2 separate regions of the Homo sapiens genome follow, and region 2 is linked to region 1. Evidence: fine-mapped expression QTL. A gene starts in region 1. The other region holds a variant in brackets. All regions are shown on one strand. Distances are between the middles of the regions.

Region 1 (2,907 bases):
AGAGAAGTTACTGATGGGGTCTCCACTGTCATTTCTGCATTTGCAGAGTGCAGCTGGCTGTGCATGGATTGGGGAGGAGGGGACTGGCACTGGCAGTGGGTGTGCCCAGAGGATGGAGCCAGAACAATTAATCAAGTGACTTTTCTACAGGATTTCCATTGGCCTTGGATGACAGATGGGGCAGAGGCACCCAGGAGAGCACTATTTTGGTTTCCAGCTGGGAACGTGCACTAAGTTTTCCTTAATACCCACAGCACCCAAAAGGCTTTGCTGTAATACACTTTAATGCATGAAACACTCATAAATTATCCTTCGAACTGTTACAACTTCCAACCTGGAACAACTTGGAAAAACCAGCCTAGCAAGCAGGCTCTTTTTTAATCTCTCAAATCACAAGAGAAGAAAAAGTTCAAGCACGAAACACCTTCCTTAAGAATCTCGAAATTTTTTTTGTTTTGTTTTTGTTTTTTTTTTTTTTTTTTTTTTTTTTTTTTTTTTTTTTAGAAGGAGGTTTGTAATTAGAGGGAGCTAAGCTGCTTGTTTCTGCTGGCTCAAAGTTGCAGCTCCCTGACCCCTGAGTCCTCTCTCCCTCCCCTAGATCCTCCTCGCCTGAACTCAAGGCGCTCCCCGCCCTAACCTTCCACGCCCGCTTCTCCCACACCTGGCAGCAGACAGCTGGAGATGAAGCGTGTGACCCAAGTGGCAGGGCTGAACCTTGGCGACCTCTACCTGAGGTTGTCCAACGCGGCTCCGTGGAGGGCCCCGGTACGCCGGACGGACCCCGGCGTTGGCTCGCAGACTTCCTGCGTTAACCCCCGGGGCCCTCAGTCACGACTCCCAGCCCTTCCGAGACGCGCTGAGGGAACTGCCCCAGGTCTAGCGCGCCCCGTTCCGCTCCTCCCCCTACCTGGGGGCCGCGCAGCACTTTCCCTACTCGGCGCTCACCTCAGCCAGCGCGCTCTGCGCTCCCCCCGCGGTGCTGGCCGCCACTCCTCCCGCCCTGGCGCGCCAGCTGCCGGCGCATCCCTCTCCGCGCCCATTCGCTCTCCCTCACTTGCGCGTTATCCACTTCTAGCCCTCGAGCTAGACCCTGGCATGGCCGTGGGCTTCTGCAGGCGCCAGGGCTGCTCCCTGGACTGCAGGCCATCCTGGGACTAGGGACTCCACGACCAGAACTAACGCTGTTCCCTCGGTCCGACTCGTCCTCCCGCGAGGGTCCCGCGCCCCCACACCCACTCGGGACATTTCTCAGGGCTGCTCTTCGGCCTGCGGGAGCCTCGGGGGTAACCAGAGAGCTCGCCAGACCGGTATCCTTGCAAACTCTCCCGCGAAGCCCAGCCACCCCTGCCCGCGCCCGCGCTGCGCCCCTCTCGGGATCGGCTCGGGGCAGCCTGACTCACCGCTGCGCTCCCCTCCGGCTCCCAGCGCTCTCTGCTGTGCCGGAGCGCCGAGCTGCTCTCACACAGGCTTCTTGAATTCTTAGCCCCTCCTCCCGTACTCCTGAGTCACACGCTCCAAATCCTGGCCCCCATCCCTCCCCTCCCCACCACCAGCCCCGCACCTGCTGTGGCTGGGCTGTGGTGCCCGGCTGGAGGGGGTCCTGGGGACTACAGACGGATCGCTCCTGGAGGGCTGGCCAGACCCAGCCAGAGAAGGACTTTAAACCTTCAGAGGTCAAAGGGAAACCCACTGGGGTCTGAGGGGCCGCGCGCGCAAAGCCGGGAGGGGGAGTTTCTGGGGCACCGGCAGGGGTCGTTGGGCCGACTGGCTGGGGCTGGGCGGAGTTGCTCGCAGCTTCCCTCACCTCTCCGCCCTGCCCCCGCGCGTTGCCCTTCGCCAGTGCCTCCCTGGTCTGCCCGGCGTCGCCCTCGGTGCCCCAGGCATCGGCTGCTCCTTTTCTTCGGGGCGCCTTTCCTTATCCCAGGATAGGTGAGCACCCAGGGGGAGCTCCGCGAGGGGCAGGTGCCCAAGCTCCTCTGACAAGGGAAGGCGGCTGCAGAACCAGCTAGAAGGCCCCCAGGCCCGGCAAGTCCAGCATGGGGACAAGGGGCAGAGGACTTCAGGAGTCAGGAGCTAGAGCCGGGACCTTAACTTAAGGCCCTGGGTTCCAGGAACTTCCCGGAGTCCTTGGCCCCTCTGAAACTGTAGGCTGATTTGCGCGACTGTGTGCAATGCTAATATTCTTTTCTGAGCTGAAGGTCCGCAGCTTTCATCAGTTTTGCAAGGGGTCTGTGACCCCAGACTGATATAGCCAGCAAACCCTAGGCCCCCATGCCCCCCTCTCCACACTCCAGGCCCCACACAAATTCTTCCTGACCCTTCAAAATTTCTTGAGTTCCCTCGATTCAGCCTGACAGGAGAGCTTGCCTGACTTTCCCCTGCCCCTCTGCCAGGGCTGTTCCCACCCCAGCATAAAATGAGCAAGGGAGAAATACCCCTGAAGTCAAATTTGTCACCAAATGTGCATCATTAATTGTAGCATTCCAGGGGATTCGTAGCTCTTTGGAAATTTACAGCCCCACTCCCTCCCGTGTTGAGCTTGTCTGTGCCTTCGCTTCTTCCTATAGCAAAGGTGGGTTGGACCCCTACCCTGTATGGATGCCACAGAGGAGAAGTAGGTGTGAGGAGAGTAACAGGGAGGGAAGGTGGGGCACAGAATCTCCCTATTGCTGGTAACACCAGCCAGTGCAACTTAGCAGAAGGGCACCCTCCAGGGAACTGGGATTTAGTGAAGCAGATGATTCCTGTCCTAAGTCTGGGGGTGGTCATTTACCCTTAATGGATGGCACTTGAGCAAGATGAAGCCCTGACTAGGCATTTCCAACTCCCTTGATTCAGATTAGTCTTGAGGTCTTACTTCTTTCTATTTTCACGTTTGCTCCCATAAGAAAGTTCATTCCATTTACA
Region 2 (2,907 bases), 170 kb after region 1:
CAATTCAATCCTGAGCTTGAGCCACACAGTGTATATATAACCATATGTAGGCAATGGAAAATACTTGCAGATCATTCATCTCAATTTATGAACCTCTTTGGCAGCCTTTGTTCTACTCTCACATGTGGCTCTGCCAAGTTTATAAATACTTCCTCTGGATGACAATAAATTTGGTCTCCCCTAATCATTCACTCCACAGATAAAATCTCATTGAGGTTGCAATAGCACTGACACTTAAAGTTAAGTGTTTTCTTGCTTGGTCTTAGCACTCTAGCCAAATGGATTTTGAGGGCCTCCTATTCATGGGTCACAGCTGCTTGACTCAAGGATTTTTGCCTATGCATGCCCTGACAGTCAGATACTAACTCACTTGGATGCCTGCCTCTCACACTGCTCTACTTTATGAAGTCAAGACCATTAATAAAATCCAGTTTACAGAAAGGCCTAGAGAAGGTTATTTCTCTGAACACTTCGCTGTACCTACTTCCATAACAGATGAACTTACCAGATGTAACAGAAGCGGTTCTTCTGTTCTCGTGGAAGATGAAGTTGTCCTTTGTTTTGATGAGTCCTGAAGGACTTAAAGGTAAGAAAACATATTCATAATATATTATCCTTTTCTGCTTTTTCCCTTAATTCTTGCCAGTTGCTAAACGCAGTGCCAGGTATATTAAGACTTTTTTTAAAAGGCATCTTCTTGTTATCACTACTATCAGCATCACAACACTCTTTCCTCTTTTCTGTATCTACTCAGCTACACAAAGCTCACTTGACAGCTTTGTAATTTTTTTTAAAAGTGGTTAATCCAGACTACAATTATCTCAATTTTAGTTTGTTGCCTGAATTGATAATTGATGGATCAATCCTTTTTTTTTCAGTGCAATGAAAATTACTATGTCATTAAAATAATGGAAATATGCTGTGGCAGGGGAAGGGAATCACCTTTGAATTCTATTTTATTTCCCTATTTATTTTTAAATATATGTGTAGAGAGAAGAGTCAGGGAGGCACAAAGGAAAATAAGCAAGAATAAAGGCCACAGGGTCATGAGGAAAGACACAGGTGCCCAGGTGGTGCAGGGAACCTGTTTTTGTCCCTTTTTGTTTTCCTTCTCCTCTGTCATTCCTCTGCTTCTGTGTCCTCCTTATCTCTCCCTCTTTTCTTTTCAGTTTCTCTCAATTTAAAATAAATTAGAACGTAGAATCAAAACGTCATGTTTTATTTTTCAAAGATTATTATTACCAGCTAAATAACATTGGTAATTTTTATTTTGAGTTTCGTACAAATTAGTTATTGATTACTAATTATTTGAGAACAGGATTTTTGTTTGGATTCTTAGCCTGTTGCTTCCACATGCTCTGAGAGGTGTAAATTTACATGGAAAATAAAATATCTTCCTGGTCAGAACAGAAGTCA[T/G]TCATGATGATTTAGCTTATTTCGGTTCTTCCTTTTTTTCCCTTCTCCCCTCCCTCTCTGTCTCTCGTTACTCACACCCAGCTATGTCACTGCGATGACCAGTGAGCCAAACACTCACCTTGGGTTCCTCCTGGGGGAAGTAATAACTCACAGCAACCTATCTCCCTCCGGGGAAGCCACCTGTGACTTTCACTGACACAGGGCTCAGGCAAGTCTCTGTACACAACGTGGTCTTCACACAATGAATCAAGACTGTTGATTGACTGAGGGGTCAGAGGGCCGACAGGCTGGTCGTTGGCTAGAGCACGGTAAAGATGATGGCAACCAGGCTCAGAGACACACAGGGATGGCCACGGAGAGTTAGGCACCAGATTTCCCACTCTCAGGCTCATGGACTTTGCAAGTCCCACTTATCCAGATTCAAACCTGGGCTCCAGCTGTTGAATTTAAGATTCAGAGAGCTTGAGCTTCTCACGGTACATATCTGAGTCTCATTATTTTCATCTTTGAAGCAGATAAGGCTGCCTATCTCACAGGCTTCTTGTGAGCATGCAGGAGGTAAGATACAAGGAGCACCTAGCACAGCACGCAGCAGATGAAAAAGAGCACGGAGAATGGAGGGGAAGAAAAGGACACAGGATAGCCGCCAGGAGCACGCACAAGTTAATTTGGGGCTGTGTGGGAAACTGATGCAAACAAGCCCCCATACATAAACGCACCACAGGGAAAGCTGGGATTCTGTGCTGAGTGAGGTTATTTCCTGAACTTGCTAATTACACAGCACCATCTAGGGGCAGAGCATGCTTCGAACAAATGGTGGTCTTGGCAAGGTCCTCTGACCCTGCGGAATTCCCAGTCCCTTTTTCCCCTTTCCCCTCAGCCCTCTTCTTCCCTCTGCTCCCTTCTCTTCCATGGCATGCCCTTTCTCACCCCACACTTATTCCCTTTTCTTCCTCTATCTACTCTTCCTGGCGCAGTATTTTTTTGCAATGGAGTCCTTAGGGTTTTGGACAAAATAATCTGTGGGAAGTCAAACAATTACTATCCTCAAACAAGCCTTCCTCCTGTGCTCTATGTCACTGATGTCCTTTGGATGGCACCAGAAACTTGGCTTGCTGAGGCTGTGCTGTCTCTGGTCTCGGATGAGGGCCATCATGGTGCCATGGATGCAGGACTGGGTGTTACCACTGCAGGTGGTGAGAAGATGGCAGTGAAGGAGGACACTCTGGTTTCAACTCACATCCTGGGGGGCCACCTTCTCTGATGTGAATTCCACTGTGAATCTTTTATTGTTCTCCAACCAGTGTAAGGACTCTACCCAAAGAACTCACAAGCTAAAGCCAGCAGCAGAGTTTTCACTTAAAATGTTTCTTTAAAAAAAACCAAACCCTCAAAGAGGGAAAGACGATTTTGGCCAAGTCTGCATCTTATGAGACTGAGACTTGCCAATTTTTATTCCCCATTTTAGAAACTGTGATTTTAAAACAATGC

Direction of the effects. Positions count from the first base shown, and alleles are read on the strand shown. Sizes are in standard deviations (SD) of each study's normalised expression.
With allele G in place of T in region 2, the expression in monocytes after Pam3CSK4 of the gene that starts at base 1,446 in region 1 is higher (large effect, 1.7 SD a copy in Quach 2016).

What was found. PIP is the estimated chance that this variant, and not a neighbour inherited with it, causes the effect.
Region 2: its variant is the best candidate, but not a certain one, in a credible set for the expression of NGF in monocytes after Pam3CSK4 (Quach 2016, PIP 0.80).

The regions. Positions count from the first base shown.
Region 1 is chr1:115,336,804-115,339,710 of GRCh38, forward strand. NGF (nerve growth factor) reads right to left here and starts at 1,446. Exons shown (of 3, transcript NM_002506.3): 1 at 1,401-1,446. The region is part of intron 1 of NGF-AS1 (NGF antisense RNA 1); the gene reads left to right.
Region 2 is chr1:115,505,175-115,508,081 of GRCh38, forward strand. No RefSeq gene overlaps it. Among named protein-coding and RNA genes, the nearest start is that of VANGL1, 140 kb to the right of the region's middle. The variant T/G (reference allele first, on the strand shown) is at 1,417.